2 separate regions of the Homo sapiens genome follow, and region 1 is linked to region 2. Evidence: fine-mapped expression QTL. A gene starts in region 2. The other region holds a variant in brackets. All regions are shown on one strand. Distances are between the middles of the regions.

Region 1 (5,369 bases), 82 kb before region 2:
TCCTCCAGCCTCAGCTTCCTGAGTAGCTGGGATTACAGGCACATGCCACCACGCCTGGCTAATTTTTGTATTTTTAGTAAAGATGGGGTTTCACCCTGTTGGCTAGGCTGGTGTCGAACTCCTGGCCTCAAAGTGATCCACCCACCTCGGCCTCCCAAAGTGCTGGGAATATAGGCGTGAGCCACCATGCCCGGCCTCCTTTGTGTAGATTAATTCTCACGATAGCAATGAGGTAGGTGCTATTATTATCCGCACTTCACAGGCAAAAAACTGGGGCTCCATTAAGCGTTTTGCCCAACAGTAAGTGACAGAAAAAAGACCAGACTTCTAACTCACTACTCAGGACTAACTTGAGAGAATGTAAAGTGGAGGGCAAATCTTGAAATAGAAGAAGTAAAATTGCTTTGTATTTCAAAAACTTCTGAGAACATACAGTAACTAAAAAAAACTTCAAGGAACAGATTTTTGTAGAGTCCTGCTTTAGTAAACAGATAAGATAAAATTATGATAGCATCATTTTTGTGAACATGCCGAGTCTTTAATGTTTTCCATTTATGCATTGCTACATTAGTAATTTGTTTAGGAGACCTCTTTTTCTTCCAAATCAGGTCACATCAATAGAAATTCTGATTTAGAGGGGCCTAAATCAATGATGCGGACAGACTTAGCATAGGCAAAAGTCAGACGTGGGATCAGTTAGCCCACAGACCAACCACTCTAAATATTGGGTTATGCCATTTAATCTCTTAGAGTCTTTGGCTTCATTGGTAAAATCAAGATAGCACCTGCCCATAGGATGATCGCAAGGGTTAAAAGAGAATTGTTAGAATTCTGCTAACTCCTGCTGCTCCTCTTCCTCCAGGAGCAAGTGGCAGGGAATGGGTAGCAGGCTGGGGGAAAAGCGGAGAGTCCCTGACAACAGATGGCAAAGTTACCATATTCTGTGTGGTTCCGAATTCAGCACAGCTTTTCTCATTCCCTTCCCCCGGACCCCCTCCTTCTTGGGCTTGCCCACCCTAACTGGAAGCTTTAGGCTTGTTCTCCCTGTTGTGTTAAAGGGGAAGGGATGGGGGGAAGGGGGACTAAGTCTTAAAGCTCTCAACACGATCTAAGGCACAGCTATGCTATTTATAGCCCAAGGGAGCGAGTGACTGGGAGGGGAGGGACAAGCAGCTTTTGCCTTGAGCTAATGGGAGCTGTAAGTGAGGGCATGATGGAGAATAGACTAGGGGACAGAGGATGCTCCTAGTTGGGGTTGGAATGGGAAGAAATGGGGTTGAAAGGCTGGGAGAATCAGAGGGGAGAAAACATTAGGGGATATAGTTGTGTCTGGGGCACTTGAAGGGTAAGGAGTGGAGTAACAGGAACAGGCAGTGGAAGTTTCTAGATAATATGGCTAGGCTGAGGCCGCTTCCTGGTGGAGGCTGTCTGTAACACCCCCACCCCCCACCCCCCACCCTTTTATAAACAGGCATTGAGTTCCAAGGACCTCCTAGCATTTGTCCAAGGACAGCCCCAAGGGCCACAGGCCTGAAGCCAGAAAGTACCTTTGGTATCCAATAATCTTTCTGAGAAGACTTCACATATTTTTTAATTTAATTTTTTTTTTTTTCTGAGACAGAGTCTCACTCTGTCGCCCAGGCTGGAGTGCAGTGGTGCTCACTGCAACCTCCACCTCCCGGCTTCAAGCAATTCTCCTGCCTCAGCCTCCCGAGTAGCTGGGACTACCCAGCTAGTTTTTGTCTTTTTGGGTAGAGACGGTCACCATGTTGGCCAGTGTGGTCTTGAACTCCTGATCTCAGGTGATCCACCCGGCTTGGCCTCCCAAAGTGCTGGGATTACAGGCATGAGCCACCACACCTGGCCAAAAGAACTTTTTTGACAACAAAAAAATCTGGTTCAGTCAACATCCCTGTGGGCAGGGGCAGGGAGAAGCAGTATAATGTGTCCCACAGGTTAACTGAAACTGCTGGGATTAGTGGAGAGGGAGGGTGGTGTTTCCCACTAATACCTCTCTCCCATTAGCAGGAGTAATCAATAACTTCTCTCTCTTTTTTTTTTTTTTTTTTTTTTGAGATAGAGTCTCACACTGTCACCCAGGCGGGAGTGCAGTGGCGTGATCTCAGCTCACTGCAACCTCCGCCTCCTGGGTTCACGTGATTCTCCTGCTTCAGCCTTCCAAGTAGCTGGGATTACAGGTGCATACCACCACACCCAGCTAATTTTTTTCAATTTTTAGCAGAGATGGGGTTTCACTATATTGGACAGACTGGTCTCGAACTCCTGACCTCGTGATCCACCAACCTCCGCCTCCCAGAGTGCTGGGATTACAGGCATGAGGCACCGCGCCTGGCAAGACTAATCAATAACTTCTTTAACAGTTCTTACTATCCAGCCAGTCTGGGGCAGGCAGGACTCCCCTGTTCCCAACAAGCAGCATTCTCAAAACTTTTTCTGGGCCGGGCTCAGTGGCTCATGAGCGCCTGTTATCCTAGCACTTTGGGAAGCTGAGGCGGGTGGATTGCCTGAGCTCAGGAGTTCGAGACCAGCCTGGAGAACAGTGAAACCCCATCTCTACTAAAAATACAAAAAATTAGCCAAGCGTGGCAGTGTGCGCCTGTAATCCCAGCTACTCAGGAGTCTGAGGCAGGAGAATCGCTTGAACCCAGGAGGCAGAGGTTGCAGTGAGCCGAGATCCACCATTGCACTCCAGACTGGGTGACACAGTGAGACTCCATCTCAAAAAAAAAAAAAAATTTACCTCTCTGGGCCTCTTTCCATCTTTCAAGACAGAAGAATCTGCTCTGAGTTTACCA[G/T]CCAAGTGGGGACCCTGGAAAGTGTGTAATGGAAATAGTGACACATTGCAGCCTTCAGATTGACCCTACTGTTCCCAAACCACAGAGCCCCAGGGCGACTCTCAAGTTCTCAAATTGGGTTTTGATCCTTTCCTGCCTGAGCCCCATGTGGATTAAAAGTGATGTGGTTCTCATAGCACCCAGCTGTACCACTCTCTGCCAAAGGCTGGAAATGAGATCCATTTCCCTGTTTGAAACTTACAGCTTTTTTCCCCTTCCCTCCAGCAGTGGTCTTTCTTCTTCTAGGGATGGTGAGCCTTCATTCACTTATTCACTCAGCATATACTTCCTAAGTACCTACAATTTGCTGGCCTCTGTTCCAGGAGCTGGGACACAGTGCCCCTGCCTTCGGGGAGCTCACGTTGTAGCAGACACCCTGGTTTGCTCCATATCCTGGCGAATGCCTGGGCCCAAGAGCCTCTACCCTGGAATTCTGACCTCAGTTTCCCCACCAGTAATGGGATTAAAGGAAATCACTAGCTGCCAAGGTGGTAGAGGAGAGAAAGAAGTCTTGACTAGAAGACAAGAGCCTTAGGTTATATTTTAGGTTTTGGGGTTTTTTGGGGGTTTTTTGTTTGTTTGTTTGTTTGTTTTTGAGACAGGGCCTTGCTCTGCTCTGTTGCCTAGGCTAGAGTACAGCCCCAGGCTAGAGTGCAGCCTCAACTTCCTGTGCTCAAACGATCCTCCCAAGTAGTTGGGACTACAGGTGCAGGCCACAAAACCTGTTCATTTTTACATTTTTTGTAGAGACAGGGTTTCACTAAGTTGCCCAGGCTGGTCTCAAACTCCTGGGCTTAAGCAATCCTCCCACTTTGGCCTCCCGAAGTGCTGAGATTATAAGCGTGAGCCACCGTGGCCAGCCTACTTGTTTTTTAAAGTATCTACAAGTGGCCGGACATGGTGGCTCACGCCTGTAATCCCAACACTTTGGGAGGCTGAGGCGGGTGGATCACCTGAGGTCAGGAGTTCGAAACCAGCCTGGCCAACATGGCGAAATCCTGTCTCTACTAAAAATACAAAATTAGTGGGCGTGGTGGCTCGTGCCTGTAATCCCAGATGTTAGGGAGGCTGAGGCAGGAGAATCGCTTAAACCCAGAAGGTGGAGGTTGCAGTGAGCTGCGATCACGCTATTGCACTCCAGCCTGGGCAACAAGAGCAAAACTCCGTCTCAAAACAAAAAAAGAAACGTTGCTCTATCAGAAGGGAGACAGAGCTGCAGGCTTGGTGGCTTGGTAATAAGGTAACAAATTAGAAAGTAGATGTATTGCCCGGTGCGGTGGCTCACGCCTGTAATCCCAGCAATTTGGGAGGCCAAGGTGGGCGGATCATGAGGTCAGGAGATCGAGACCATCCTGGCTAACACGGTGAAACCCCATCTCTACTAAAAATACAAAAAATTAGCCAGGCATGGTGGCGGGCACCTGTAGTCCCAGCTACTCCCGAGGCTGAGGCAGGAGAATGGCATGAACCCGGGAGACGGAGCTTGCAATGAGCCGAGATCGCGCCACTGCACTCCAGCCTGGGCAAGAGAGTGAGACTCCGTCTCAAAAAAAAAAAAAAAAGGAAAGTAAATGAATGTATTGTTCCCAATCTCTAGGAAGAAAGAATACGCAATGCATTTTGGGAGGGGGAGGCAGGAGGATTGACTGAGCTCAGGAGTTCGAGACCAGCCTGGGCAACATAGGGATACCTTGTCTCTACTAAAAATAAAAAAAATTAGCCCGGCATGGTGGCGCATGCCTGTAGTTCCAGCTACTCGGAAGGCTGAGGTGGGAGGATCATTTGAGCCTAGGCAGTTGAGGCTGTGGTGAGCTGTGATCACGCTGCTGCAACCAGCCTGGGCAACAGAGTGAGACCCTGTCTCAAAGAAAACAAAAAGTAAAAGAAAAAAAAAATAGGCAACAATAAAAGATGGGGAGTTTTCCCTTCCAGATTCATTCATGAATCTATGGGAAAATAATACCTAATGAACATTTGTATATATAAAAATACATTTATATATTTATAGTTTTATATATATATATATACACACACACACACACACACATATATATATATAATCAAATGTTTTAATACCATTTTAAAGGTTTTTTTTGAGACAGTCTCCCTCTCTTGCCAGGCTAGAGTGCAGTGGTGTGATCTCGGCTCGCTGCAACCAACCTCTGCCTCCTGGGTTCAAGCCATTTTCCTGCCTCAGCCTCCCAAGTAGCTGAGACTACAGGCATGCACCACCATGCCTGACTAACTTTTTTGTATTTTTAGTAGACAGGGTTTTGCTGTGTTGGCCAGGCTGGTCTTGAACTCCTGAGCTCATGTGATACACCCGCCTTGGCCTCCCAAAGTGCTGGGATTATAGGCATGAGCCACTGTGCCTGACCTTAAAGGTTTTTTTTTTATTGAGACGGAGTCTCGCTCTGCCACCCAGGCTGGCTCACTGCAAGCTCCACCTCCCGGGTTCACGCCATTCTCTTGCCTCAGCCTCCCCAGTAGCTGGGACTACAGGCGTCCGCCACC
Region 2 (5,369 bases):
TACAAAAAATTAGCCAGGCATGGTGGCGCACGTCTGTAATCCCAGCTACTCGGGAGGCTGAGGCAGTAGAATTGCTTGAACCCGGGAGGTGGAGGTTAGGGTGAGCAGAGATCACGCCATTGCACTCCAGCCTGGGCAACAAGAGCAAAACTCCATCACACACACACATAAACACACAAAAGTTACAAGCCTTACAGAGTTGTGAGAAATAAGTGATGTAGAGTGCATACAAAGCTTGGCAGAGTGGCCCATAGAAGTCCACAGCTTTGGTACCTCAGGGGAAACTGAGGCACAGATAAGAGAGGGCCCCAAACAAGTCCCTTGAGGAGGTCGCCATGAGGGCCCTAGGAAGTCTCAGTCTCAGAGAGACCCCAAAATTGGAGATAATCACTGCCCGGCAGATCCATGGAACTCCATTCCCTCCCCGCAGGCTCTCAGACACCCCTCAGAAGTATCTGGAATCGGTGGATCACATACACACCTCACATGCACTCACTCACCTGCAGAACAACACAGAGACCCCCAACCCAAGCAGTTCAACTGCACCCATCCTGACCTTCCCACGCAGCTGCAGACACCACCACAGCCCAGAACCTCCTACCCTTTGCCACCTCTGTCTCTGTTCGGAAAGGGTCAGGCTGAAGGAGCAACCTGCCCAGTTGGAATACCTGACTTTTCATCCCTACCTGACTCCAGGCTTTTCCTCAACTCTGTCCCCTTTCCCTGCGGTGACATCCCTCCATGACTCAATCTGCACATCCCTTAAAGCATAAGCCAGAGTCCCAGCAGTCGGGCAGACCATCAGTTCCCCCACAGTGTAACCACGGGGTGCACAGTTCACAGGTAGGGAGTGACACCAGGCAAGACAGCCAGACTCAGCGGCCAGGACACCCCATCCCCGGCCCTAGGACTGCACACCTCCCAGGGAGCCTGGGCAGTTGCTGAAGGCAGCTTCCACCCCCCACCCCACCCCCAGTGACTGCGGGCCTTGGACCATTAGCCCCCTCCCCCTGCCCCTCTGCACGGCCCTGAGTGATGGTCCATCTATTATGCATGCTCCCTTCCTGCTCCATCCATTTCATCAGTATTCTCCACCCCTGCACCACCCCGCATCCCCCTCTGCTCCCCTCCCTTAAGGGCTTTTAACCAAGTACATTAGGCAGGGCCAGATGCCAGTCTGACAGATGTCCGTAATGTTAGCCTCCGTTTCCCTCCTTCCTCCCTCTGCCCAGCCCAATTTACCTCCCACCACTCCCCGCTGCCAAAACTTCCCAGGCCTCAGTTGTACCCCTCTTCTGGGTCTCCCCCCTATACCTCCTGTTTGTGCCGGGCCTTTGCCAGCCAACCTGCCCTCTGCTGCCCTGTTGGCCTGGCTCACTTTCAGCTCCAGCTCTTGGAGCGCTGGGGTGTGCTGAATGAATATTCCATCTGGGTGATTATTATTCACATGATATTAATTAATTATTAATTGCAATTAATCTCCTTCATGCCTAACCTTCCTCTGGGAGGCAGGAGGGGCCTGGCAGCTGAAAGGGACAGTGGGCAGGCAGGTAGAGCTGGCTTGGGGCCTCAAGTTATTTTCCAAGGCCCCACCTTCAGCCAGGACAGGAAGAACAACAAGCCTATCTGGGCACTGTGTGGAAACTGAGGCAGGAGCAAGCACTAAGTTGTTCCAAGAAAGCCCACTAAGGTGGCTGTGGTGAGAACCTGAGAGCCCTAATCCCTGACTGGAATCTGGGCTGCCTCTCCCTGCCCCCAACTTGCCCCATCCAAGCCCTGTTTTGAACAGAACAACTAGCTTTGGCCAGAGCAGAGCAGGGGGCCATTGGAAGGCTGACCCAAAGCAGACCTGAGACCTAGGCATTAGTGGTCCCTGTACACTGAGGGCAGGGGACCCTACAATAATGGAAGGGGGCCCTGGGGCTGGGCAGGCCTGGTGCTCCCCACCAGTGGGCTCCAGCACCCACCGGATAGCCCACTGTACAGAAGGGGACCCTGCGGGGCAGCTGCTGAGGGGGACTCCAACCCTGGTTACCCCGTGGGCTTCCTGGGGCTCTGAGGCCTGCTTCAGCCCCTGGCCTCACCACCCAGCCCCACTCACCGGGCCCCCTGGTGGCTCCTGGCGGACCCTTGTGTCCAGCTGCTGCTTTCGGACCTCTCCCCCGGAGCTCTCCCTAACCAGACGGCTGGGTTCCGTGACCTCAGGGGCTCCTGGGCCTCCCAGCTGGGGTAAGCCCCCCCATCGCAGAGCTCCAGCAGGACCTTGGGTCCCAAGACCTGGGGAAACAAGGCCATGGCTGCAGGCAGCTGCCCACCCTGGGGCAGAAGACTTGGGAATGGGGTGGGCATGCCTCATCCCCCACTCTGGTGTGGCCCCTGGAGCCCTAGGGCGATCCGGGTGGGAGGATCTGGCTGCCCTGCAGAGGCAAGAGCCCGCGGGGAGGGGGCCAGGAGCTTCACTCCCGCCCAACCGTCACGACTGCCCCCCCATCCGCCCAAACCCGCAGAGACCTGCAGAGCTGGCCGGTCGGCGGCAGGGGCAGGGACGCGGTGGGCCCGGCCAGCTGGGGACAGGTGGGTGGACGCACCTTCCCTCCTCTCCCGCTCCCCTACCCTCCCGCGCTCCGGACCGGCTGTCACCCCGAGCACTGCAGGAAAAGGTGGCTGCAGCAGCAAGCGCCGCACATCCCGGGGCGGGGGCAGGGAGGGGGCGCCGGGGCCGGGCGGGGGTCACTCACCGGGCGTGGGGAGCAGCGACAGCAGCAGAGCCGCGAACGCCCAGCGCCGCAGCAGCCTCATGGCTCGCTCATTCCTCCCGGTCCGGGGGCTGCGGCTGCCAGCGGCGCGGGGAGGGCGGGAGCAGGGACGGGGGTGGGGAGGCGCCAGCTGCGGAGCCGGGGCGGGGGCGCGGGGCCGGGCGGGGGTCGCGGAGAGGTGGGGGCGGCAGGGACGGCGCCGGGGCTCAGCGCGCTCCGGCCGCGGCCATCCCGGCGGGGCGGCGGGGCCGGGTTAAGAGCTGAGCAGCGAGCACGTGAGCCCAGGGCCCGCCCTCCGCTCTCCCGCCGCCCCCCGGCCCCCCCAGCCCCGCAGGGCCCGGGCCGCCGCCGCGGCAGGACAAAAGAGGCGCCGCCCCGGGGTCCCTCCTCGCACCTCGAAGTCTCCTCGGCAGGTGCGGGGCGGTGGCGCTCCGCGTACTTATCCCGCGGCCTCTCCTCGGCCACCTCTGCCTGAGCATCTCCGAGGACTCGTAGATTTGTAGGGGAGGGAAGCAGGGGACGGGGTACCCCCGGGGTCGACCCGGCGACTGCCTGTCTGGGGCCCGGGGGCAGGGGCGTGGCTGCGGCGCCCACGTTCGCCCCTCTGTCGTGGTACCCCAGAGAGGCTGCCCCAGCCCCAGCTTGGAGCGCCCCGCTTGACCCCAGGCTGTGGAAGCTGGGGTTGGGGTGGGCAAAGGCTCTTGGCGAACGCCGGGCTCTACGCCTCTGGGATTTCTTGCACCTTCGCTACGGGTCGTGTCACTGCGGAGTCCTCTCACGCCCGCGGTACAGACCCCTTCCCATCGGCTCCTTCTCCCCGCCAAAGATGCCCCGGCCTCCAGGAGGGCTTCAGGGATCGCTGTCACTCCAACCATCAGGAAGGGCTGGCATGTCCGTCTGGGTTCCTGAGTCTCTCACAGGCGTCCTGTCCTTCCTCCTAGATAAAATATAAACTAGCCAGGTCACTTATATGCTGCTAGCATGCCCCATGGCTCCCCCTCCCTTGCTAGTCCCAATCCTTAGGAGCAGAAGACACCTCTGGAGCCCCCCAGCATTCCCTCTCTGGTCAGACTAGGCTGCCCTGTCTGCAAAATACTTGACCTCCCAACCTACATTCCCAGCTGTGCCCTCCACCCAGCTCCTGGGGATGTTGGGTCCCAATACCAGGGCTGGGACCTCAGACTTCTGCTAGGGGTGCTGAAGGCCAGATACCTGAGATGGTGTGGGGTGTGGTAGGGCATGGTGGGTGGGCCGCTGAGTCCCCACCCTGACCTTTTTGGTACCCATGCTAGGGGACCACAGGTTGCTGAAGAACAAGATTGGAGGCAGGAAACCCCTTCCTGGGTCCTCTGCTTCCGCAAGGACCCAGGGCCTCTGCTGGGGATGAGGGAACTGCCTCTAGCTTGTGACACCCCCACCCCCCGCTCTATTTTAGGCCCAGGAGAGGTGAGAAGGCGATTTCCCAGGAGGCGCTGACATCAATGTAGGGAACCAAGTGACTCCCCCCACCCCCAACCACCTGCCATGCCAGGCCCAGATGCTCAGTAAGGCTGAGCCAATTCTTCCTTCGCTCTGGAGACATCTTGAGAACCTCCTCCAAGATGTAGGCATGAGGAGGCTCCTGGGAATGAGGGCCTACTAGGTGGTATTCCTGGAAACTCATCATGAGCCCAGAGGGAGAGATTGTGCTCCCCATTTTACAGATGGGGAAACTGAGGCTCTGAGAGGTTATGTGAGCTTCTCAAAGTCACACAGCTGGTGAAAGGCACATCCCATACTCCATGGCCCCACTCCTCTTAGCCACCCCTAGTCCTACTTCCATCTCTGCCCTCCATTTGGGACCAGAGGGGACTGGTATATCTGGTCCCATGCACCCTCACCACACACCCCAGACACGAAGGTGGCTGTCCTGCTCCAGCCTGCCCATGTCCCAGGGCCACATCAGCAAGTCCCGATCAGGAGTGCCCCCCAGTAGGCTGGGTGAGGTTTGTCATTTCACAGTGCGAGCCCGGGGCTGGGAGAGTCTGGGTCCTCCAACATGTTCAAGACCACAGAGCAAGCCCAATCTGTGGTCCAGGCCTCTTCACCAGAGGCATGTTCCTACCACATCGGTGGCCCTGGGACCCTAGACTTCCTGTTGGGGAGACCTGATGAGCCCTAAGAGTGACTCTCCCTGGTGGCACCCTGGGCTAGTTCCAGTGGAGACTCGGTCATATGGCTCCCTGGCCCCCATAGCCACTTATATTCCTGGGTTCCCCGGCTCCCAGCAGATCTGGCTAGAACTTACTTTTTTTTTTTTTTTTTTTTTGAGACAGAGTCTGGCTCTGTCGCCCAGGCTGGAGTGCAGTGGCACGATCTCGGCTCACTGCAAGCTCCGCCTCCCGGGTTCACGCCATTCTCCTGCCTCAGCCTCCTGAATAGTTGGGACTACAGGTGCTCGCCACCACGCCCAGCTATTTTTTTTTTTTTTTTGTATTTTTAGTAGCGACGGGGTTTCACATGTTAGCCAGCATGGTCTCGATCTCCTGGCCTCGTGATCCACCCGCCTCGGCCTCCCAAAGTGCTGAGATTACAGGCGTGAGCCACCGCACCCGGCTAGAACTTACTATTTTT

Evidence for each region. PIP is the estimated chance that this variant, and not a neighbour inherited with it, causes the effect.
Region 1: its variant is the best candidate, but not a certain one, in a credible set for the expression of ADAM11 in aorta (GTEx, PIP 0.57).

The regions. Positions count from the first base shown.
Region 1 is chr17:44,838,623-44,843,991 of GRCh38, reverse strand. No RefSeq gene overlaps it. Among named protein-coding and RNA genes, the nearest start is that of HIGD1B, 6.6 kb to the left of the region's middle. The variant G/T (reference allele first, on the strand shown) is at 2,817.
Region 2 is chr17:44,756,630-44,761,998 of GRCh38, reverse strand. It overlaps ADAM11 (ADAM metallopeptidase domain 11), which reads right to left and starts at 3,011. Exons shown (of 27, transcript NM_002390.6): 1 at 2,739-3,011; 2 at 2,102-2,277. The coding sequence starts at 2,799. RefSeq lists an enhancer at 2,819-3,370.